Linked DNA regions of Homo sapiens. The protein of the gene in region 2 purifies or fractionates together with the protein of the main gene of each other region. This does not show direct contact. Each region holds a gene or a part of one and is shown on either strand. Other genes may lie near its edges. The genes, in order: FRMD5 and ENPEP.

Region 1 (12,223 bases), on a different chromosome or scaffold from region 2:
TGGGATGGAGGGCTCTAAGCCAGGGATGAATTACGGATGTTGAGTGAGGCTGGGCCCGGTATCTCCTCTCTTAAGATCAGTAGGGATGTGAATGAGGAGAAAAATGCAGCTAATTCCACAGGCTCACAGAATGCCCCAGGGAGGGGGAGGCACAAAGACTGCAAAGCAGGCCCAGGCACCGGTGGTTCACACTCCTGACAATGCTGGAAAACTGCATACTAGGTAAAGAACGCTGGTGAGGTTGAGAGAGAGGGGAAAATTGCCCAAGATGGTTAGCACAAATGCATGCAGACCGAGAGGAGCTCCTTCTCTTGCCAGTGTCCTTGAAGTCTGCTGACTTGGTGAGAGGCCTGGCCATGGTCCTAATGCTGTGCTTACCAGGACTTGGATGACTACCTGGGATAGCTTTCTCTCTCAGGAAACAGAAGTTAGCTGCTTAAGTTTTAGGATTCTAGCTGGTGGGGAAAGGGGACAGAGGAGGAGTGGAGATTATTAGAAAAGAAGTACCTTTCACATAAACAAGGAAGAAAAGCCAGTACTAACTGTACTTGTGCATGATGCAGAGCCCCTGGGGCCTACGGACTGTGTAATGAATCTGGCAACGAAATATTGAGACTTTGCTCAGTGCAAGGCTCACTGTGGGTGTATTAAGAAGTGTAAGAGGCCGGGATAGTGGTTAATCTTCCCGACAATTCTATGAGGTAGATATCACTATCCCCATTTTATAAATGAGTAATCTAAGGTTAGAGAGGTTAAGTATCTTATTTCCAAGTTAAGTATCTTATTTGGCTGTATACAGCCAACAAGTAACATAAGTAAGATCTGAGCTCCCAGGTCTATGCTGCTTCTTGGGTAGGAAGGTCTGTCCATTCATGTAAGATAGTGACACTGGATTTACAAAATTGTATTTTTTTTTTTTTTTTGAGACAGAGTTTCACCCTTGTTGCCCAGGCTGGAGTGCAATGGCGTGATCTTGGCTCACTGCAACCTCTGCCTCCTGGGTTCAAGCGATTCTCCTGTCTCAGCCTCCCGAGAAGCAGGGATTAAAGGTGTGCACCACCACACCCGGCTAATATTTTGTCTTTTTAGTAGAGACGGGGTTTCACCATGTTGGTCAGGCTGGTCTCAAACTCCTGACCTCAGATGATCCACCCACCTCACCCTCCCAAAGTGCTGGGATGACAGGCGTGAGCCACCACGCCTGGCGGAAAATTGTATTATTAAGAGCTCTTCCTAAGGGCCAAGATAACCATACATTTCCAGTCCTTTAATCAAATTGGAAAGCCATGTGTCTGTGGTGCTCTCACTGGCTGCTCCCTCTCATCCCCACTGTTGGTCCAGTGAGGTGGACAACAAAGACGTGTTAGGTTTGCTCCGATATGTAGACAGGAGTACCAACTTTGGGGTCTGCCCTGGCACCAGTACCTCTTTTAGCAGAGACAGACAGAAGTTCAGAGCTAAGGCAAACACTCTGGAGATCATGAGTGGGGCAGGCTAGTGGTATTTTAACAAAACTCTTGAAAAAAATTTTTTTTTGAGACAGAGTCTCACTGTGTCACTCAGGCTGGAGTGTAATGCCGCAATCTTGGCTTACTGCAACCTCCACCTCACGGGTTCAAGTGATTCTCCTGCCTCAGCCTCCCGAGTAGCTGGGATTACAGGCGTGATGGCCCGGCTAATTTTTGTATTTTTAGTAGAGATGGGGCTTCACCAAGTTGGCGAGACTGGTCTCGAACTCCTGACTTCAGGTGATCCGCCCGCCTCAGCCTCCCAAAGTTCTGGGATTACAGGCGTGAGCCACCACACCTGGCCTGAAATTTTAAACATAGTGGTTCTACCCTTACTCACCTACCTAAAGCCTTAGGGTGTCTATGATTTGGATGGATTTGGTTTTCTGAAGCAAAGCAAGAGCCACCTCCACTTCCACATAGATGAGCAGAGCCTGGGGCTTCTATGCCTAGTAAGAGACATGAGATTTGGTTCTAGCTACACTCTTCACTGTCTTCAGTGCTTCAAAGTAGGTGGGTACACGCTGCCCTATGCATCTGCAGGAAACAAGCCTTCCTGAAGAGGATCTCCCTCAACTCCCATGTGAAGGGCCCATGCCGAAGAAGCCACTTTTCTCCCCTGTCCCACTTCCTTGTTGCCTTTGTACTGATAATGCCTGCTTCTTGGCCCCCTCCTCTCCCCATTTCCTGATTTCCTCTCTTAGAGAAATTTTTGCTCCTTTCACCTGGCATGCTCTTTAGATCAGGAAATGAAAATAATTCTGGCCGGGCACGGTGGCTCATGCCTGTAATCCCAGCACTTTGGGAGGCTGAGGCAGGCGGGTCACGAGCTCAGGAGTTCGAGACCAGCCTGGTTAACATGGTGAAACCCCGTCTCTACTAAAAATACAAAAATTAGCCAGCCGTGGTGGCAGGCGCCCGTAATCCCAGTTAGTCAGGAGGCTGAGGCAGGAGAATCGCTTGAAACCAGAAGGTGGAGGTTGCAGTGAGCTGAGATCGCGCCACTGCACTCCAGCCTGGGCAACAAGAGCGAAACTCTGTCTCAAAAAAGAAAAGAATTCCATATTCTTTCCTCCTTCTTCCCTCCTCCTTTTCTGTCTTTGGAATTTTCCCAAGCAGTTAAGGATCTAGGAGTGGATCTCAAAGCCTTACAGGATAACCCGTCTATATGGCTGGCAATATCCTCATTCCCACCTTTGCTGTCTCCACGGTCTTAGGGAAGGGGTTAGAGCTGACAGTCCTATCTCTTCCTCAGCTCTAGGATTCCCTGGCATCACATCCTTACCTATGGTCCTGCCTTCTACAAAGTAACATCAAGGTTTTGCTTATGTCAAAATTAGGTCTTTCTAATATAAAAATTAGGGATCCATGTTGTAGAGTTCTTGAATCTCTGAGGTGAGACTTTCACAGTAAATTTCGCTCAGATACACAAAATCCTGGGGAAGCTTTGAAGCTCTCACTCACTGACCCTCTTTTAGGATGGCTGTGGGCACAGAGGTTCTTTTCATCCTCAAGTGGCGCTGGATGAGACAGGATGCATTCCACGCAGCTGTCGGCCTGCCACAGAACATGATCCCCACAATAGTTTATCACGAACCTGATCCAACAGCACCACAGAGTTTATCCATTTTGATTTTAAATCTTCAGTATCTCCCAGCTTATCTTTCAGTGTTATGCCTTTGGCATTTTCCAAGTATATCCATTAGACCACTTGAATCTATTTGCAACCTCCGAAATAAGCAGCAACATAGCTCTCTCCAAAAATGTCCACAGTGGCAACATCATAGGTAAAAGAAAAGACGCTTCTGATTAGTTACTCCAGAGCCCTTTGAGAGTGACCAGTTCAAGAGGTAGTATTCACACTTCTTGAAGGAAAGAAGTCCACTCTGTTGCGACTGCACTGAGGGGTACGCGAAGAAAGCATGTGGAAATGAAATACAGAAGTCATTATATTTAGGAAGAGTTCCTTGCCTCTAAGAGTTAGGCGCTTCCAAATGAGAGGCTCTAAGAGGTCACCATCCCCCTTTCCTATGCTCTCCAACAGGTCCTAATGGCTGCGGGAAGCATGTTCACCTCACCTGGTTATTTCTTCTTTCAGAGCAGCAGGGTCTGCAGGATAAAACTTCACACGGAAGCACATGGTGAATGGAGGCTGGGCTGCAGAGAAAAAGAGGTGCTCATCAGGGAAGACTCTCACCCAGAAGAGGACAGGGCTCTTCTGCCCACTAGCATGAAGCAGCAGAAGAGAACCCTCATATATTTAGGGCCAACTTATACTCAGAACAGTGGGAAATTATATATGTAGATCAAAACTTGAGATAAGTGGGAGGTTTCGTCCCACCCTCCCCAGGGGTGTGGCTTGAGTCTTTTCATGGAGAATACTTACATCTCAATTGTTTCACCACAGACTTTGTAAATTCCAGCCAATGCTGAAACAGAGAACACAGAACATGAAAACCCTAATGAGAAGGGCTGTAAAATATAACTTGTTTTCTCCAACTTAAAAAACTAGACAGATTGTAGCCTAGGGTGAAAGCAGCCCAAAAGCTTATGAAAGATAAGTTTGGTGAGTAAAGAGTGATATGATTTTCTGAAATGAGCTCCCATGGAGCCAGCTGTGAAGGGGGGAATAGTTCCAGCTTCAGATGCCATTTATGGGCTTCCCTGGAAATGCTGTCTTCTAAAGCAGGGTGCCAAAATTCTGAGCCATGTTTTTGGCATGCGATTAAGGCACAAGCGACTGCATGTATGTGTGGCGGGGACAGAGCCCCACCTGGGTTGAGTCGGGAAATACTGACTTTAATGGGTGGTGTGTGTTTCTGTTATGCACCAGCTTTTTTTTTCTTCTTTTTTTGGCAGGGGAGTGGGAATAGAAGATTTTGGTAGCAACTCTAGAAAGTAGTGAGAAGTGGAAATTTCCTAAGTCAGGGATGGCTGGTATATATTCCATCTTTCTTTGAGTAACATAAATTGCCAACCCTTGTGTTAGAAAACACATACTCAGGATTCCTTGGCATCCAGTGATGTTTTAAAATCTAAATCTCAAATGATAACTAACCACAACCAACGTGTAGGATAGTACCTTCTTCCCCTTGGATTTTTCAAGGAGGCAGGACATAGAGGCAGAATACATTTTCCCATGGTACTTAACGTCTGGGGGAAGCAATGAAACCATTCTATATGTGTTCCTTAATTCTACATGGGTCCTTTATAAATTTTATTATTGATGTTTGTTGCTTTTTGCTAATCAAGATTAGGTAGGACTGCTATTAATTGGAGTTTGATTATCCAGAGGTAGCTTAACATTGCCAGATGTAAGCTCCATGAAGGCCCAGAACTGTCAGTCTCGTTTACCACTGTATCACCAGTGCCTAGCACAGTGTTCAATAGGTAGCTGCTGAATGGCAAAGGGACTGGGCCCATACTTCCTTCTTTTCTGGCTACTTCAATTTAGTGTAATGTCTTGGCAGAGTCCTCCCTCTGGCAGGAGAGCAGCCAGGGCGCTGCAGTCAGCATCCTGGCCTCCCTTGATTCCCAGTGATCACCTTCTGGGCTGGGCCATGGGTCATGCAGTTAATGGACCCACTAAGAGCCAGTTCTTCTGTCAGCTCCACATGGATAATCTGGACTGACATTCTGCTCTCCTGCTTCTGCTGATCTGAGTTCCCACGAGGCTGGCAACTCATTATAGCCACTCAATGTGGTTAAGAGGCCCTTCTCACATTACACGGCCCACCGCGGCTCAGCTTCACAGGGAGGCAAAGGCAAGAGATGAAATTGCTCAGAAACAACTGGGGTTCCAGGGTATGCCTGTGAAGACGGAGGAGGCCTATCTGTTCAGAGCACACTGGAATTGTGGACAGTGAGGAGAACATAGCCAGTGCCAGGGATTCAGTACACAGAACAGCAACACCCCCAGACATTAGACTGATAGATTAAAAGAAATAAACAAAGGAAGGTAGAAATTAATGACTGTGAGATGCATTATCAGCAGAGGGCAGATAAAGCTGAATGACAAAAGCCTATTCCCCTTGACAATAGCTAGAAAGAAGATTTTAGTTTTATTGTAGTGAGAGCTCAAGAAAGGACTGAGGCTGGAGGATAGTAGCAAGGGGTGAGAAGGGACTGAAGAGCTGTCACAGCTGATCCATGGGATTTGGAGTCTGGCAGAGAAATCTTGAGAGGAACCCAAGAATATGGTGATGGCCAGAGTGGCTTTTTGCAAATGCCTGACCAAATCGGTCCCAGATTCACTAGCAAACAGACAACATGGGCTTAGGGAGGAGGGATTAAAAGAAGAGGAAAAGAAGATTCAGAGAGGAGGGTTTCCTCCCCTATCTGAGTGAATGGGCCAATGTGGCACAATCTTCAGACTCTAGGGGCTTGAAAGGGTACAAAGCAGAGGCCAAGAGAAGGTGGAGGCCCTGGGCCCGAGTCAGGCATCCTGGGGAAGGAAAGTAAGGGCAGCTCCTCCAGGAGAGACCAGGAGAGCTTGCAGATGCATGGAGGCTCCTGCAGAGCAAGGACTGACATCGGATGGATGTAAGTGCTGGGTTCAGACTGTCTTGAGACCCAGGGAAAGAGGTTTATTTTAGGCCCTTACACCCTGAGGGAGCAGGGGAGCTCAGCTCCTCCATCCCTACCATGAATCAGTGGACTAAGGACAACTCTCTACAGGTCCCCATTTCCCTACAACCCTCAGTTACTGTCTCAAGCCTCTCTGCTCTCCTTAACCCCTCCCGCAAGGCACAGAATTACACAACTTTCAGAGGCTATCAGTTATACATTCAGCATGGAATCTCAGAAACCACACTGGCCCTGGAGTCAAACAGGTCTGAGCTCGAGGCTGGCTTTGCCACTGACCTGGGGCAAGTTACTTAACTTGTCTGAGACTTTATTTACTCATCTGGATAACAGATATTATCATTAGGGATACTCATCTCATTTTGTTAAGGATGAGATGGAATAACATACGTGAAGCTCTTAGCTTAGTGCCTGGCACGACTCAGTGAGCAGTATACATCAGCTGGAAGAATTAGGTTTGTGTGCAGCGCAGAGCCTGGCAAGCAGTAGGAACTCCATAAATGTTTACTTCTCCTCTTTCCCATGTTCTTATCTCTCTCTAGTTCCTTCTCATTTTAACCTTCACCACATCCACATATTCTCTTACTCTCCTCAAGCACATTCTGACCTAACTAAAAAACCAATGAACAGGATACAATTCGCCTTTTTTTCTTCATATACCACCACTCTAGGGGATGAAGAGATCTTGGAGTAACTGGCCCTCCTTTTTTTTTTTTTTTTTTAAAGACAAGAGTCTTGCTCTGTCTCCCAGGCTGGAGTGCAGTGGTGTGATCTTGGCTCACTGCAACCTCCACCTCCCGGGTTCGAGTGATTCTCATGTCTCAGCCTCCCAAGTAGCTGGGACTACAGGCACATGCCACCATTTCCGCGAATTTTTGTATTTTTAGTGGAGACGGGGTTTTGCCATGTTGCCCAGGCTGGTCATGAACTCCTGGGCTGAAACAATCCGCCTGCCTTAGCCTCCCAAAGTGCTGGGATTACAGGCATGAGCCAGTGCACACAGCCAGCCTTCCTTTTTAAGGATAAAAGTTTGGACCAAACAAAGAAACACCATCATTACCTCTCTACTTTGGTGGGGATGCCAGAGAGTACATCTCCACAAAGAGCAAAGGGTAGATGAAGGGAAGTTATAGAAACTGCAGGTGTCTGCAAGCTGGGAGGCTGGGCAAATGGACGTAAGAAATACAACACTATAAGCCATTAACTCACTCATGCATTCATTTCTTCAGAAAATATTTATTGAACACCAACTACATTGTAGGCCTGTGCTAGTTAAATGGGAGATAGTGATGAATGAGACAAAGTCCAGGCCCTCATGGAACTTACATTTTTGCAGGGAACACAGGTAATCACAGAATGATGTAATAAGTGCTATAACAGGGTAGCAGAGGGCACATGGGGGCCCATAGGAGGATCCCTAATACAGAGTGGGGTTAGGGGAGATTTCCCAGAGGAAGTAAAAGTCTAAGCTGAGACCTTAAGTGTGAAAAGGAGTTAGCTGGAAGAAGGGTGTGGAGTGTGGAGCGGTAAGGAAAAGGAGAAGATTCTAGGCAGGGGAACTCTATAGGTGAAGGCTCTGTAAAGAAAGAAGGTATGATGTATCTGGAGGGCAAAAGTATTACTGTCTGGCGGGACCACAGCAGGTTGGGGAGATGAAGCTGGAGAAATAGGCAGGGGCCTGAGATGATGGACTTGTTCCTGAATCTGTCTGGAATATCAGCACCCTTGGCTATCAGAATGCCCTGTGTCTGCAGAGCTGCCTATGCTGTGTAGAGCAGAGCAAGAACTGCAAGATCTGCAAGGTGCTGAAAGGCCCGCGCTGGTTTGGCTCTGTCTGTACTGCCTAGATTGGGTTGGTATGGCACCTTTGGTGAGGCCTTTCCTAACCAGTACAATGTGCTTCAGCCTGCTTACTAGAAAGTGGGCAGGAGAGGCTCACCCTGTGACTTGGGCTCCGAGACCACAACTCCAGCCCAGCTGCTCTGCCTCCAACTTTGTGCAAATCATTTAAGCTCCCTAGCCTGCCATTTCAGCAACTGTAAAATGACAAGCTTCTCCAGGTGAGCTCTAGCCAAGGTGCCTTCCAGGTCTAATGCTATGATCTGAAGAGACGACATCCAACTGCAGGGTCTGGTTGGTCCCTGATTCCTGAAGCTTGACTTTGAATATGAATGACAGTTCAAGACCTCAGTCTTATTGACTAGCCCTGTCCTCCTTTTGTGCTTTGAATATTGACTTACCCGCTGCTTATCTGGGTCTACAAAGCGGATACCAAAATAGTCTTTCTCAAGTAGGTTCAGATGGTGGCAAAGAAGGTCAAACAGGTACTGGCCTTTGGCATCTCTCTGCAAAGAAAGAAAACTCCATTGAGAAATGAGTGGGTTTCTTCAGTGTAACTTTTTTTTTTTTTATAGCCATTAAAAGTTGTTTGTAACTGTTGCATGTGTCTATGAAAGGGGTGAATGTCCATAACTATGTCCTCCACATTGTGATACATCACTCACTGTCTGGAATCCAGAGGCTTTTAGCACCTGGAAGGAGCCCAAGAACCCTTCCCACCACAAAGATGTCAGAGAAGTCAGGGTAGAGTCAGGTAAGCCCAGTTCCCATCTCAAATGCACAGAGAGCTTTCTTAAACTGTGGGTGTAGGGAATGTCAGTGTGGAATACAGCAATAATTACACCAGGCCCAGCTGACTGAGCCTCTAAAGTAAATCTTGAATCCATTCACTTCTCTTCCTCTCTGTTACCAACACCATAGGTCAAGCCACCACCATCCCTCAACAGGACCACTGCCAGAGCCTTCTAACTGATCTTCTGCCTTTGCTCTTGCCCTTTCAGTCCATTCTCCGCACAGCAATGAGGGTGTCCACAATTTAGACATCATCTCTTTCTTGCTGAATAAGTGATCAGGCACATTGTAGGATATTTAAACAAACAAAAGGATATACTATGAACAGTAAGTCTCCCTTCCACCCTGGCCACCCTGTGCCCCAGTTCCTCTCCCTAGAAGCAACTGTTATCAGCTTCTTGTATATCCTTTTTTTTTTTTTTTTTTTGAGATGGAGTCTCGTTCTGTCTCCCAGGCTGGAGTGCAATAGCGCAGTCTTGGCTCACTGCAACCTCCACCACCTGGGTTCACACGATTCTCCTGTCTCAGCCTCCCAAGTAGCTGGGATTACAGGCATGTGCCACCACGTCCAGCTAATTTTTGTATTTTTAGTAGACACGGGGTTTCACCATGTTGGTCAGGCTGGTCTCTAACTTCTGACCTTAGGTGATCTGCCTGCCTCGGCCTCCCAAAGTGCTAGGATTAAAGGTGTGAGCCACCATGCCCAGCCCTCTTGTATATCCTTTATGTGATGTTTTATACACAGGCAAACCTACATACATATACATCTCCTCTTTTAAAAATACATTTTGTAACATATTTTTAAGCTCTTTTCTCCCACTTAGGGTATCCTGCAAATCCTTCTATGGCAATATATATAGATATGCCTCACAGTTTTTAACTGCTGCATGTCACTGCAATGAATCTAAAATTATTTACCCAGTTCCATATTGATGACATTTGTTTCTAATTTGCTATTACAAACAATGTGGCAGTGAACATACAATGATCTTTATGTTACTCACTTCTCTTAATTCTTGTTGCTCTCAGAATAAAATGAAAACTCTGATCATGGCGTCCCAGGCCCTATACAGCCTGGCTTCTCTCTGCACTCACCCAAAATCATTTTCCTCACTACACTTCAGCCATGGCCTTTCCGTTCTGAACTCCCCAAGGCTTTTCTGCCACTGTCTTTGCATTCCCTCTGCCGGGAATGTTCTTCCTGCAGCTCTCTGCAGCCACTCCTATTTTTTGAGGACTCAGCTCAAATGTCCCCTCTTCAGAGAGGCCTTTCCCTATAGTACAGCCCTTCCCAGTTACTTTCCATCTCATTTTGCCATTTATGTCCTTCATAGCACTTATACCAATCTGTAATTATCTTGTTGATTTGTTTAGTTATCTATTTACTATCTGCTTCCTTTCTAGACTGTAATTTTCATGAGGTCAGAATCCTTCCCCCAGAACTTAGCACAGGGCCTGATGCATGGCAGGCAGGTCCTCAATAATTATTTGTTGAATAAATTACTGAATGAATAGAAGGGAAAAGGTTTGCTAAAAGATTTCACAAAATGGTGAAAAGCTAGGCCGTTTATAACCCATAACCTTCTACTTCAGAGACCTGCCTGGATGCCAAGGGTGAAGTGGGAGGAGAATGACTTGCAGGAACCTGTCAAAACATCTGGAGCCTGCACAGCATCCATCGCTGGCCTGTCCCCAGTGGTCTCTGCAGCTCAGTTCAGATGATCATCTCTGGCGGGTCTATGTCTAATTTTGCATACAAATTGAGGTTGTATGAGGAATTTCTGTAGTGTAGTGGTTATCACGTTTGTCTCAGAAATTGAGGTTGTAAGATAAGATCCAAAGATCTCTCCTGTGCCAAGGCCCAAGGCCATGGGTAATTACAGAAGGGCCTGGCCCTGCCCCAAGAATGAGCATATTTTAAAGACCTTCACAAAAGGTTTACACCTCACCTCTTCCCCTTCTGCTAACTCACCACATACTATCCAAGGAGAACTAGGGCAGGATGCTGATCTCGCGGCAGTTATGTTAAGAAGTTTGTCCTTGCAGGAGCTGGAAGAATAGGTGAGTAGACAGCTCAACTACAGAAGGAGGCAACATGTGGGCAACACCCCTCCTCTTCTGAGACAGGAATAATACAGGGTGGTCACAGGAGAATAAAAATTCCAGACAGCAGTTTCACATGACTAGAGGCTATGGGCTGATAAGACCCTGAAAAACAGGGCATAGACCAAGCTAGCTAAGACCCACTGAACCCAATGTGTGGCTGGATTTGACCTAGGTTTCTCCTAGGACCTCACTATAAACTCGTTAACATACTAGATCACACACCTACCAGCGCCAGGACTGTTCCAAGACCACCCATATTTGCTGTAAAAATAGGTGCCACTGCAGTTATGAGAAATCTCTACCTTTTCCCAAGAATTTTCTTGAATATTCCACCCCTTGGTTAAAGAAACCCATAAAGACAGAAACCCCAAACCCCACTGAATGACTCTCTCAAGTATGCCTACGCTCCCTTTTCTTGAATGTGTACTTTGCCCTTTGCAATAAATCTCAATAAATCTCTGTTCTTTTACTATTTTCTGACTCTTCCTTGAATTTCTTGAAAGAATTCTTATCTTCTCAATGGTGTCAAGAGCCTGGACACCAGGTGGGGTGGAGGTCTCACTGGCGTTTGGGGACCTCCCCCAGCCCACTGGTATCACTTCTGCTAGCCTCATACTCCCTCTCACAACATAAGCCTGAACTCGCAGGCCCTATTCCTCCTGTCTTTGGTCCCCTACAGGAAAGAGTGACTCTCAGGACAGAGACTCGTTATGAATCACACTGGGACTTCTGGGTGGTGGGCCACAAACCAGGTCTTTCAAAGGACTCCGTCAGAACTTTCTTTGTGCAGGGCCTATTAACTACTTCTTCACTGATGCCAAGAGAGTGAGAAGAGCTTAAAGAGGTATTTCAGGTTCTCTGGGAGCAGAGGAAACATGTTCCACTCTATCCCATGCAGCATATCCTATACTATTATCTCTCTCAGAGCAACTGAAATGGAACAGTGAGAGACAGTAGCATATTTTCATTGCTTTTCTCTACAAATTTTACTTTGCACCAAGCTGGCTTTTACATTGTGATCAGCTGGTGCTTTTTTTTTTTTAATGAAAAAATGTTTTTCACAAACACTACTACAGTATGATGTGAGTTTTACGGGCTGAAGAAGTTTGCTTCCATACATACAACAACCAGATTAGCAATGGGACAGAGATAGCTATAGGGAAAACATGCTTCTGTGATGGAAATCATACAGACTTTTAATAAGAATCCTGCCTTTCATAAAACAACTCATTCTCATGGGCTGCGAGTTCAGATGCACTTGTAAGGCTCTTAGCTGGTAAGAACCCTGAACTTGGTAGATCCAACTTCAGATTTCTTCCACTTCACAGGAAGAAAAAGGAAGCATGGCTTTTCTCTTGGAGTAGTTAGGAAATAAGGATATATCCCACTACCCA
Region 2 (12,899 bases):
GATTTCCCCAGATATAAATTTAATGAAAGATTCAAATAAAATCAGTGGGAGTCATATTGCTTATACAAAATGACATACAGCCTGTTAACTGAACAAATAATTTATTAACACTGTAAACAAATATTATGCCATGAAGACAACTGGAAAATAAACACACAAAAATCTTTGAAACCTTGAGCAAAATACCTCCCAAAGAACAAAAACCAAGTTGTCAAGTATATCTTTAGAAAATCGGAAGTGAATGAAAAAAGAGAGTGTGTTCTTATTCAAAAAGCTAATATTCTATCTCATTGTGATCCTCTTTCTACTTGAAAAACAACTATTCTGTCCTGAGGCTATGTTTTCATTTGTGTTTTTATTTAGTGCTTTTCCAACATTTGAAGTGCCTGGGACATTATGGTTTTCAATAAATGTTTGTTGAGTGAATATGTAAAATCTGCTGTACTCTTTTTCTGTGGCTGCTGTAACAAATTACTACAGACTTGGCTTAAAATAACAGAAATGTATTCTTTCACATTTTTGGAGGCCAGAAGTCCAAAATGAATATCACTAGGCCAAAATCAAGGACAGCAGGGTCATCTTGATCCAGAAGCTGTAGGGGAGAATCTGTTGCTTCCCTCTTCTGGTGACTGCCAGCATTCCTTGGCTTGTGGCTGCATCACTCCAATCTTAAAGACCAGCACCTTCAATAGCACCTTCAAATCTCTCTCTGCTCTGTCTTTACATCACCTCTGTCTGTGTGTAAAATCTCTCTGCCTCCCTTTTATAAGGACACATGAGATCATATATTAGGACCTATCCTAATAGTACAGGATAATCTTCCAACTCAAGATCTTAAACTTAATCATATCTGCAAAGACACTTTAAAAAAAACTATATTTTGTAACATGCACAGGTTCCAGGGATTATCAAGTGGATATCTTTTGGAGGGGGGCATGTTTTTTTTTTAGCTTAAGGCAAAAGCATTCTAAAAAAGTCATAAACTGAAAACAGAAGAGATGCTAAATAAAGAGAACAGCAACAGGAGAAATAATGTTTCTATTATCCATATGGATGACTTTGATCATCTTAATGCAGTTTAAGTCTTTACTTCCAAGGAAAACAAAAATTGAAGACAACTTTATTTGGTTAAAGTTAATGTGGCAATAAAGAAATTTTCAAACCAAACAGCTAGCACTAATAAATAAAAATTGTAAAATTATAGGCCTTTTCTTTGAAATAAATAATTAATATTACCTAAGGTAAAGAAAGGGTGTATTAGAATTTTTGTGGAGAACATAATCCAAAATAATCATTGCTAGTATAATTCACTTGGACTCTTTATGGAGTAAAAGAATATTGGATGAAATAGTTTCCCTATACCAACGTTATTTTTGCAGACTTCTGCAGATAGAAGAGAAGAAAATATTGCCAAGAATTCTGATACCATAAAGGCTGAAAGGAAATGTTGAGTAAATTAAACATTTCAGGAAGTTTTAAAACTCTTCAGAATACAGAACTATTATTTAGTGCACTGAAAAAATATATATAATTTCAAAATTCTTAGAACAACAGAAATCTAGACTATATTATCACTATTATTTTTCTCCTGCTGTTTTTATATCCAACCACTTTCTCCCAATGCATTATTGCACATTAGGGAACTCAATACAAATGCAGTTAAAAATTATAGGAATCATAAATTTTTTAGTTTTATTTTGTTTGCTTTTCCAAATATTTTCAAAATCTCTACCTGCTGAGAACAAGGCAGGGCTTTACATATATGCCTTTAAGAATATTAAGAATATTCACTATTATTTCTTTTAAGGCTTACATTTTGAAGTTTATCTTAGCATTCCTTACCTAATAAATATTTGTTGGAAAGTAAATATTTATTTAGTCAACAAATATTTGTTGAGTTATTGAATGAATGAATAAATGAATAAATAAATAGTGGCTAAGAAACACTTTTCTGGCAGCAGGGGGTTGGGGGGCAGGGGAAGAAAGTGAAGTGAACAGATTCTCTCTAGAGTGATCCAAATGGCTAACAGGAGCATAATTCTTGCTTGTGAAATGACATCTCCTGGCATTCAGGGATTAGTGGTGAGAGACATTATGAGCATCAGTCTGGGTATCCCAGAAAACTGCAGAGAATTCTCAAATCAGCCTGGAAACAACAAGGAATAGAGAAGATAGAAACTTATTGTTTCACTGATTTTTATTTTTATTTTTTATTTTTTTGAGACAGAGTCTTGCTCTGTTGCCCAGGCTGGAGTGCAGTGACGTGATCTCAGCTCACTGCAACCTCACCCTCTGGGTTCAAGCGATTCTCCTGCCTCAGCCTCCTAAGTAGCTGGAATTACAGGTGCCCACCACCACGCCCAGCTAATGTTTGTACTTTTAATTGAGACAGGGTTTGACCATGTTGGCCAGGCTGGTCTTGAACTCCTGGCCTCAAATGATCCACCTGCCATGGCCTCCCAAAGTGCTGGGATTACAGGCGTGAGCCACCTCACCTGGCCTGATTTTTATTTTTTATTAAATTATGTTTGGTGTGTTTTGGAGGTTTATTTTCCTTCTCATCTATTTTGAAAGTCCTCCTTTTTCCTCTCCCTTTCCTTTGCCTCTTGTCTCTTTCTTCTTCTCCTTTTCCTCATCTTTCCTCCCTCTCCCTTTATTGTGCCAGTCATTGGACAAATTCATCATTTTCCCACCAATAAAAATTAGATGTGGCATGCTGAACATTTTATGTCTTAAAACTACTCCTGACATCTGCATCAGTTTTCAGCTCTTGGAAAAAGTTAATCTAGTTCACTTAGTCTTAAAACCAACTGAACCTTTTAAAACAGTTGTTGACGCCAAATAAAAGATGACAAATAGGGCACAGGCATTGGAAATACAGGTGAATTTACCAGCATCAGAAAGAACATGGCCAATATGGCTTTAGACCTCACGGTTAGCCAAGTCAGTTGCAATGACTCTCTCCTTTTTCAACTCTCACAGCTCACTAAACCTTTAAAGTTTGGAAATGGCTGAATTGACCAAGGGTGTTTATAGAATTTATGAGTTTAATAATAGTGGCCCTGTGGCAAGATGGAAAGAAACTGGTTCGGGCCCTCCTTGTTCCCTATGTATACAGCCTAATTTGCAGATTCTATTTCCTCCATTGTGAATCTAACTTGCCACTTTTTTTTTTTTTGAGACTGAGTCTCGCTCTGTCGCCCAGGCTGGAGTGCAATGGCATGATCTCGGCTCACTGCAACCTCCGACTCCTGGGTTCAAGCAGGATTCTCCCACCTCAGCCTCCCGAGTAGCTGGGATTACAGGCACCCGCCATCATGCCCTGCTAAGTTTTGTATTTTTGTAGAGTCGGGGTTTCACTGTGTTGGCCAGGCTAGTCTTGAACTCCTGACCTCAGGTGATCAGCCTTGAACCATAGCATTCAGCTCAGATCACTGATTAAAGGGCCAGCCAAATAATCACACAGTAGTGTTAATTGCTGACTACATTTCCTGAGATGCTCCTAGTGCCCAGGTGAGCCAGCAGCACATGTTATGGTATGGCTATGGCTTGTTTGTTCCAACGGAAACGCATGTTGAAATCGGATCCCCAGTGGCAGTGTTGTGAGGTGGGGTCTAATGGGAGGTGTTTAGGTCATGACAACTCTACCCTCATGGGTGGCTTGGTGCCCTTCTGTATTCTACAACAGTAAATGAATTCTTGCTCTGGCAAGACTGAATTAGTTCTTGTGGGAATGAATTAGCTCCCGTGAGACTGCGCTGTCATAGAGCCAGGATGCACCTTGGGTTTTGCAACTTTACACGTGTCTGCTTCCCTTTTGACCTTCCCTAACGTTGTAATGGTGTGAAAGCCCTCGCCAGAAGCCAAGCAGGTGCTGGTGCCATGCTTCTTGTGCTTCCTAGCCTACAGAAATGTGAGCTAAGTAATCCTCTTTTCTCTATAAATTACCCAGCCTCAGGTATATGTTATAGCAACAAAAAACAGACTAAGACAGCACCGTGTATACACAGAAGGCCCAATAGCTCTGTAGGATGTGTAATTCCTGGTACCTAATAGAAAAGCTTTAAATGGAAGCTGTAAGTGAAAAAGAGAGGTGCATACTTGGCCTTTGATGTTACAGTGAGTCTCTTGCATCAGTCTACCGCCTATGGGAAGGAATTTGCCAAGAATTTCCTCACCTACTCAAGATCAGATGTGATTTCCAGGTCTTCACCCCAGGGAATGTCTTTCTAGTCTTTTCTGGAATTCGAACAGAGTTTCTCTCAACATTCCTGGCACAGTATGTCTGTTAACCCCTCCCATTCTGGATTATTGTTTTTCCTTCCTCTCCTTGTTCATTTATTTGTTCATTTGTTATTCACTAAGCAATCAATAAACATTTATTGAGTATTGAATAGGGAACAGATATCTATTGAATGTTAAATAAGGAACAGGAGCAGATACTGGAATTTTAGTACTCAAAGTAGATCACGATAATGTATGTATCAAAAGGGATGGAGATTGTCATATAGAACCTACAGTAAACTGTTGTTCTTTCACTCCACTGGCTTGGACCTGATAAGTGGAAATTGACCAGCAGTAGTCGTTTGAAATTATTTATATCCAATGTAGATTCATTCAACGTAAGATTACCCAATATGGTCTATTTAATCTAGGAGGGTGCCTGTGATGGTGCACATGCTGGCCCTTCTACCTCTGCTCATCTGGCTGTATTAGGTCACCCTAATATGCTGATCCTCACAAGATGTGGTGCCCTTCATTGGATGCAGTCAGCTCACACAGGTTGGTACTAATAAGATACTGTGGCTAGAACTGGGCTGTGGACTCAAAACCTACACACACACACACCCCATATGTGGACTTAGGGTATTTTATTTCTTCTGGCAAAAAAAAATGCATTTAAATAGTATATTCATTATGGTAGAATTTCAGGCAGAGTAGTAGAGCTTTTTCATAGCAGGTGGCCATTCTTAATCTTCCTTAAGTGTACCCAACCCAAAGGTCTATTATCTTCTCTGTACATAAGACCTGGTGATAAGATTGTTGTCTTTGTAAATAAGGGCAAGTTTAAGAGATTTCATATATGTTTGCCACAAGGTCAAGTTTAAGAGATTTCAAATGTTTGCCACATCTGAGATTTTAAAAAATACTTCCAGTTTAACATAATTTTATGTACATTCTTCCAAATACTTTTTGCTTTTCCTTTCACTATGTTTAGGTAAATTTGAGCCACATTTTTGCCTTTCATTCCTAAGAAACATATCAAAATATTTGACCCATCAAACATTTATTGAAATGTCAGATGATCTTTTCAATAAAAAGAGGGTTTCAAGGGCTAAAATTCAGGAAGTTAATGTGCCAAACTTAAACATACTGTGATCTCAAGAAGTTTAGGGTTGCTTCAGAATGTAAAATTAATCAATACAAGATGGGCCTACAATTTAGAAAAACATATCCCTTTTTCCTTTAATTCTTTTTCTGTTACTACTATTTTGTGAGAAAAACAGCAGAAATGTTACAGAGTAAAATGGACCCGTTTGCTTTTAAAGTTTTGTTTTTTGTTTGTTTGTTTAGTTTGTAATTTAGAACCGTTTGAAACAACGTTTCTCAGAGTGTGCTCTGTGGAACAGAGGGCCCTCAAAAGGTACCTCACCAGAAAAAGCTGTCTTGTCAACTAAATGGGGAAAGTACTCCGTCGTGTTTCCTCTCTGAGAGGCTCACAATGTGTGTCACCATCTGGAGGCTCTGCAAGAATGGAGAGTAGTAAAAGAAGATTTTTCACTTTAACCCAGCATTGTTTGCTTGGCAAGTAGATCTGTTAATATCCATGGATTGTATCTGGGGAAATACCAAGTTTTTCATAGTTACTTAACCCTTGAATATTTATCCTCCTCAGAGCATGGAAGCAAGCAGTAGAATGCGATCGTTGATATATGGACTTTAATTTTTTTAATTTTATTTATTTATTTATTTATTTTGAGATGGAGTCTTGCTCTGTCACACAGGCTGGAGTACAATGGCACGGTCTCTGCTCACTGCAACCTCCGCCTCCCAGCTTCAAGCAATTCTCCTGCCTCAGCCTCCTGAGTAGCTGGGATTACAGATGTGTTCCACCACGCCTGGCTAATTTTTGTATCTTTAGGAGAGACAGGGTTTCACCACGTTGGCCAGGCTGGTCTCAAACTCCCGACCGCAGGTGATCCACCTGCCTCAGCCTCCCAAAGTGTTGAGATTACAGGCGTGAGCCACCACACCTGGCCAGATATATGGACTTTAGACTCAGACAACGTGGGTTCAAACCCCAGTTCTGCTATTTGCCAGGTGTGTGACCTTGAGCAATAGCTTAACCTCTCTAAATGTCAGTCCATAGCTAAGCTGCCAGTAAATATGAAGTTCATTGAGATTTTTCTTCCTGAGCTTGTCATTCAGAAACAAAATGATAGATTTGCATGGATGATGGATTTCCCAACAGGTCAATTTTCACATCTGGAATCTACTTTAAACGTGCTCTACCACATCAAAGTCTAAGGAAGTCAATCTCACTTGGAGGCACACTGCAGAGACAAGTAGGCCTTCTTCCTTGTCCCTCTGTCCTTTCAGACTTCTCCCCCTCTTGTTCCCTCTCTCTTCTTAAGCTTTCCAGCTCCACTACTGCTTTGGCTAATTTCTTTGGGTTCCCCCTCTCTCATTCACCCAGCACCAGCTGAACTGATTTAGGTTTACCTGGCTATGCTTTCCAAATCTAATTCGACAAATATTTACTGAGTACCTAGGTGGTCCTTGAATCACCCTGAGCACCCAATTCCAGGATATGACTTCTTCAAAGGACAGAATTGGAATGTTTACATAATATGAGGGAAAAAAAATAAAAGAAAACACTTAGCTTCTTTAGCAAGCTATCTGATAAAATAGCTGAAATTCAAGAAGCCCTTTAGTTAGGAGGGAGAGATTGCGAACACAACAGGAAGAAGCCCCAGGCTGAGTGGCAAAGGTTGAGATTTTCTATCGTAAGCACACCTCACCCAAACGCTTGCTCCCTGAAAGCTGCTGACGGAGCTTTGGCGAGGGCTCATCCTCCCGTTGGCTGATAAGCGAAGCCCTGTTTTATATTTAACTCGCTGCAGTGCAGGAGGGGTAGGGGTGGAGATGCGTCGTTTATAAGGGGAGCTGTGACAATCTTCTTGCCAGCCCTCTTCCTCCCACTCGGCTCCTCTTACGGAGTCCTCATTCCACCCCCCTTGTTTCCGCATTCATCCTGAGTGGCTGGTGGGAACGTGAAAAGGGAGAGGAAAAGGCGCAAGAAGCCAGAGAGAGGGGTGTGGGAAAAGCGAAAACAGGCTGCCAAATCAGGGGATTCCTTCCAATTTAAAAAGGAAGTCTGCTGACGTTAGTTAGTTAAATTTAACATCTTTTTATGTGTAACACTTGACTTTGGAAGCAAAAATGAACTTTGCGGAGAGAGAGGGCTCTAAGAGATACTGCATTCAAACGAAACATGTGGCCATTCTCTGTGCGGTGGTGGTGGGTGTAGGATTAATAGTGGGACTTGCCGTGGGCTTGACCAGATCGTGTGACTCCAGCGGGGACGGCGGGCCGGGCACTGCGCCAGCTCCTTCCCACCTGCCTTCTTCCACGGCCAGCCCCTCAGGTCCTCCTGCCCAGGACCAGGACATCTGCCCGGCCAGTGAGGATGAGAGCGGACAGTGGAAAAACTTTCGACTGCCGGACTTCGTCAACCCAGTCCACTACGACCTGCACGTGAAGCCCCTGTTGGAGGAGGACACCTACACGGGCACCGTGAGCATCTCCATCAACCTGAGCGCTCCCACCCGGTACCTGTGGCTGCACCTCCGGGAGACCAGGATCACCCGGCTCCCGGAGCTGAAGAGGCCCTCTGGGGACCAGGTGCAAGTCCGGAGGTGTTTCGAGTACAAAAAGCAGGAGTACGTGGTGGTCGAGGCGGAGGAAGAGCTTACCCCCAGCAGTGGAGATGGCCTGTATCTCCTGACCATGGAGTTCGCCGGCTGGCTGAACGGCTCCCTCGTGGGATTTTATAGAACCACCTACACGGAGAACGGACAAGTCAAGTAAATATTAATTTTTGCTTTACCTCCCTTAAGCTCACATATCTGCTTTCCATTTCTTTTCCTTTCCTTTTCACTTTCCGCTTTTAATTATTTTGTTGGTCTGATATTGATCGGCTCTTGGTTTCAATTCTGGCTGTCCATCTGGGAAGCCAAAATTGTTGCCCTATTGTATTTCCAAACCCTGTCATAAAACTTGAAAGTAGTGAATGAGCTTCGTAGAGTCAAAAGTCAGTGTAAGTCTTTTATTCCATCAGGAGAAATCATAATATACTGCACCCTATCTTGAAGATTTCCATAAATTATCTCAGGTTTGAGAACTGCCTTTGGTAAATTTCACTAGTGATATTCCCAGGCTATGTAGCAATATATATACAGCAATATATATGAACTTTTAAAGTGGTATTACACTAAATTTACGTGAAACATCAGTAAATTTCAGTTATTATTTTGTCCATTTTTTTTTTGTCCAATGTCTCTTTTTTGGAGAAGAGAGACATTGAAAAATCACATGTGATCCACAGAATTGTCTTTGTGTCTTCATCTGGAAAGGAAGACAGGACTGTGTTTTTTTCTGTCTCCGATGGCCAGGACCATGCTTTACACATAGGCTTTCAGGAAATATTCATTGAGTCCACACATCAGTGGCATAGGTAAATTTGGAGGCTTGTTGCTCATGATACAATGTGCAAACATAATGCTAAGCCTTTTACAACATAAAAGATATATTAAGTAGTTAAATACATACAAATATTTGTATACAAATATCTATCTAGATAGATAGGTATTTATTCCACTTTCCCACCTATTTGTCTAGCCTTTGTATTGATCAGTGGCTACTACCAGAGCTATGTTAAAGGCATAAACTCTCTCATTGAACTCCAAAAACTTCCTTCACACTGTGGATGTAGCCCTTGCATCAGGGAGGAAGGCTACACTACACCTTGTGTTGTGTCTGGACTGCTTTGACCTTTGCTGGCTTAGATTCTGAAGAGGTAAATGATTAAGAAAGCTTCTTGTCACAGTTTAGAGATGTGAGTCTTGGGCCAGTCCACCCACAAATATCCCTTTTTTTCTGTTGTTTTAAGCATCTTACAGAGCAAGCAAATTTTTTGGTCAAAATTCTTTCTATTGTTTGTCAGACAGACCCACGGACTAAAACAAAACATTTAAATATTCCTATATTCCTGTGTGGTAAACTGATAAATTGAGTAGAAGTGATAGTTTGAAGAAAATATCTGTAGGGGTCATGCTTATATAGATCTTATATCTTAATACTGCTAGCAAAAAAACACTCTTACCATTTACGTATTTTTTCTGTTCATAAGAATTACATCATTGAAAGCATAAAAATTATCAAAAAGGATAATCAAAATAATCTGTAAAATAATTTCACTGCCCAGTGGTAATCCCTGCTAGCATATTAATGTATATTCTAATGTTTTTCTAGGCAATCAAACCTTTAATTGCATTATATCTGTCTATCTATATGCCTTTTTTACTTAATGTCTTGAGAAGTTCCCCTTATTCTTACATGTTTTCAAGAATCTGTTTTTTGTTCTTTATTGAGACAGGGTCTTGCTATGTTGCCCAGGCTGGTCTTGAACTCCTGGACTCAAGCAATCCTCCTGCCACCACTTCCCAAAGTGCTGGGATTATAGGCATGAGCCACTGCACACAGCCAAGAATCTGATTTTAAAGATGTGAAATATTCCATTGTTTGAATACATTGTAATTTTTTAAAACAAATTATATTGTTGAGCATTTGAGTTGTTTCTAGTATTTTATTATTATAAACAAATCATCAAATAACATACTTCTAAATACCTCTTTGTATGTGCATCTGTTTATTTCCTTAGGTTAGGATATAGTCCTAAAAATAGAATTGCTGGGTCAAAGTGTACAAATATACCAAGATATTGTAATAGTTACTTTGTTTATTGATAACATAAATAATACACGTTTATTGAAGGAAACTCAGAAAACAGAGAAAATTATAGGAAAACATAAATTCATCCATAAATTCTTTACCCAAGTATAGCCATTGTTAACATTTAGGCAGAGACTCTTTTAGTACTTTTCTGGACATAGATAGCTGTGGCATAATTATATTATACATAGTAATGTGTAACATGCTTTTCCAATATAGCATCAATGCTTTAAGATGTCATTTGATGTTCTTCCACAAATGATTCGATGGATACATGGTAGGCCATTGTATGACTACAATGTAGTTGATTCACTTTTCCATTAAATATGAGTATTTAAGTTGCTCCTATTTTTTCACCTATAAGGATCTAGAAGAAGGCGCATCCTTATATTGACTATCCTTGTAAATAACTATTTATGGACATTTTCTAATATTTAAGAAAATTCCTAGAAGATGGGCCAAAACTACCTGTGTATAAATGCATGTATGTCTGTGTATATATGTGTACATGCATATACATATATATGCATGAACATGTGTATGCATGTGTGTGTGTCTCCAAACTGACTTCCAAAAAATATGTCCCAAACTCCATTTCCACCAACAATGTATGAAAGCGACTATTCCTCTGAGCCTTACTAACAATACAATGATTTTTTAAAAGTGTTTGCCAATGGTCGAGGGAAGGGCAATATTCTGAAGAATATCCACCTTAAAGAGATTCTAAAAATTCATTGAAGTGAAAGCGAGTCAAGACTTTTTAAATATTATTGCTAAAACTTTAAAACTGCTTCTTAGATCATAAAGACAAGAGAAATTTTATCTGAATAAAACCATCAAAATATTTATAAAATAATAAAATAAAATTTTACACATATTAGGAAGGCCAAAAATTGGAACTATGTAGTCTCCATTAATAAGTTTCTATTATGTACTTTATAAGTCTAAAAAAAGCATTATATACACAAATACTCTCACTCTTTGAGTTATTTTAGTGTACCAGTTAATTTTGCCATAAAATATATACCAGAGAGCTGCCCTTCTGAAGCTCAGTTGACTTAACTTTTGATTGGAGATTACGAAATGATGGCAACATCGGTGAGGAAGGCTGATGCTCAGTTCAGTTCTCACTGAGGATTGGTGTTCCCAAGTTTGTATGTTTCATTGGGAGCAGTTGAAGCTCTCACATTACAAAAGATGCTGCCAGTTCTGTACTGCACACACATGGTTTTGGAACAGATCTGGCGTCAGCTCAATAACCTCATTTAGGCTAAATGGAATACTTTTTGTTATCCTTGTCTGAAATATTTCAAGCATATGAGAAAAGTGCATCATGCTTTTTTTTCTAGCCTGTGAGTAATATTTTGGCAATGCAGCCTCTAGGAGTTCTCATCCACAGGCTCCATATAAGGGCCACCAGAGGGAGTTCACTGGGGGCAGTGCCTTTCTTTCATACTATAGAGTGAGCTTCGTCATATGTGACGTTTGTATCATTTTAAACGTCATCATAGTAATACATTTGAAGTACGGAGTCAAAATTATATTTTCTGACCTTAACGTAAAATGTAACTCCAGGATTGAGTATTAGTAGTTAGGGATATTAATGTGACAACCACAATGCAAACTAAACAGGATTGCACTCAGTAGTAACCAAAATTACTTAATTTCTGCAAATACAATCAGGACTTTGAGCTTCACAAACTTCACAGCTACCCAAGTTGCTTTCTCTCAAGATTGAGACATGGGGAAGAAAGGGGACAAAATTTAGAATTCCACATTGTCTTTCTGGGGACAGAGTTGTAGTGGGGCGTGGAAGGAGAAAGTTTGAGAAACATCCAGTCGCTTTTCCTTTATCGATCTACCTCTTCCTACTCGCTAGTCTATTCTTCAGGGTCTGAGGAAAACCACTTGGAAGGATTGGAACCTTTGGAATGTTTCTCTGACCACACCCTCCTTCTTCCCATTTTCTCACCGTGTTACGTAGGATTTCCAGCTGTTCCCTTCCCTAAAAGAGTTTCCCTCTACTCAAACTCCAAAGTATATATTTTCTTCTCTCCAAGATTTGGCTTTTCCTTGTCAGCATTTGGATTATGCTTACTTAGCACTTCCCAAAGTATGTACTGCAGAATTCTAGTTGCATGGGGATCTTAGTAGATATTACCAGAAAAATAGCAGGGGAGAGATTCTGTGGCTAAATCAGTTTGTGCAATAATACTAAATACAAAATGATCTGTTTTGGATTTTGTTTTTAATTATGGAACTTTTCAGAGACTTTTTTTTTTTTAAAGAGATGAGATCCAGGCTGGGGTAGAACTCCTGGCTTGAACTCATGAGTTCATGAGTTCAAGTGATCCTCCCACCTCAGCTTTCCGAGTAGCTGGGATTACAGGGTTTTCAGAGGCTTTTATATGATAATGTCCTCTATGTAGTTTCCCAACTCTCTGTGACTATGGATTCTTCTGTGGGGTTCCTAAGAGTAGGGATATATGTCTTTCCTTTACTGTTTGGCACACAGTGAGCACTCAAATATTCTCAAATGGAATAAATGAAAATATTATCATATAAGCTCTCACATGACTAGTATCCTCTGGCAAATGCTGGGACACATTGCATTACCACAGCTTCTCTCCCATAAACGAGCCTAACTTCCACCAATAACATCTCTACATTCCCACTTAGGGTGAAAATTTTCCCTTGGTTCCTTTTCTGCCTACCCTGTGGAAGGGAAGAGTTTATATGTGTATGTATATATATTTGTACTTAGGAATGCAATCTCCGTAGTTTAAAGGCAGAGAAACAGTGGAATTGACAGGAAGTACAACCGGAATTTTAGAGATCATTTCTAGTTTGGGCTGCCAAGGTGTTCTTCGTAGCGCTAGTAGGAT

Evidence for each region.
Region 1: the proteins of ENPEP (region 2) and FRMD5 purify together in Homo sapiens (affinity purification with mass spectrometry; 2 studies listed by BioGRID and IntAct, with this or other methods). This does not show direct contact.

The regions. Positions count from the first base shown.
Region 1 is NC_000015.10:43,915,873-43,928,095, forward strand, and holds part of FRMD5 (FERM domain-containing protein 5), read right to left. Parts: intron 8,438-12,223; coding exon 8,333-8,437; intron 3,938-8,332; coding exon 3,895-3,937; intron 3,666-3,894; coding exon 3,587-3,665; intron 3,409-3,586; exon of another isoform or gene 2,977-3,408; intron 1,958-2,976; exon of another isoform or gene 1,853-1,957; intron 1-1,852. UniProt on the Homo sapiens protein: May be involved in regulation of cell migration. May regulate cell-matrix interactions via its interaction with ITGB5 and modifying ITGB5 cytoplasmic tail interactions such as with FERMT2 and TLN1.
Region 2 is NC_000004.12:110,468,972-110,481,870, forward strand, and holds the start of ENPEP (glutamyl aminopeptidase), read left to right. Parts: upstream 1-7,183; 5' UTR 7,184-7,443; coding exon 7,444-8,087; intron 8,088-12,899. UniProt on the Homo sapiens protein: Regulates central hypertension through its calcium-modulated preference to cleave N-terminal acidic residues from peptides such as angiotensin II.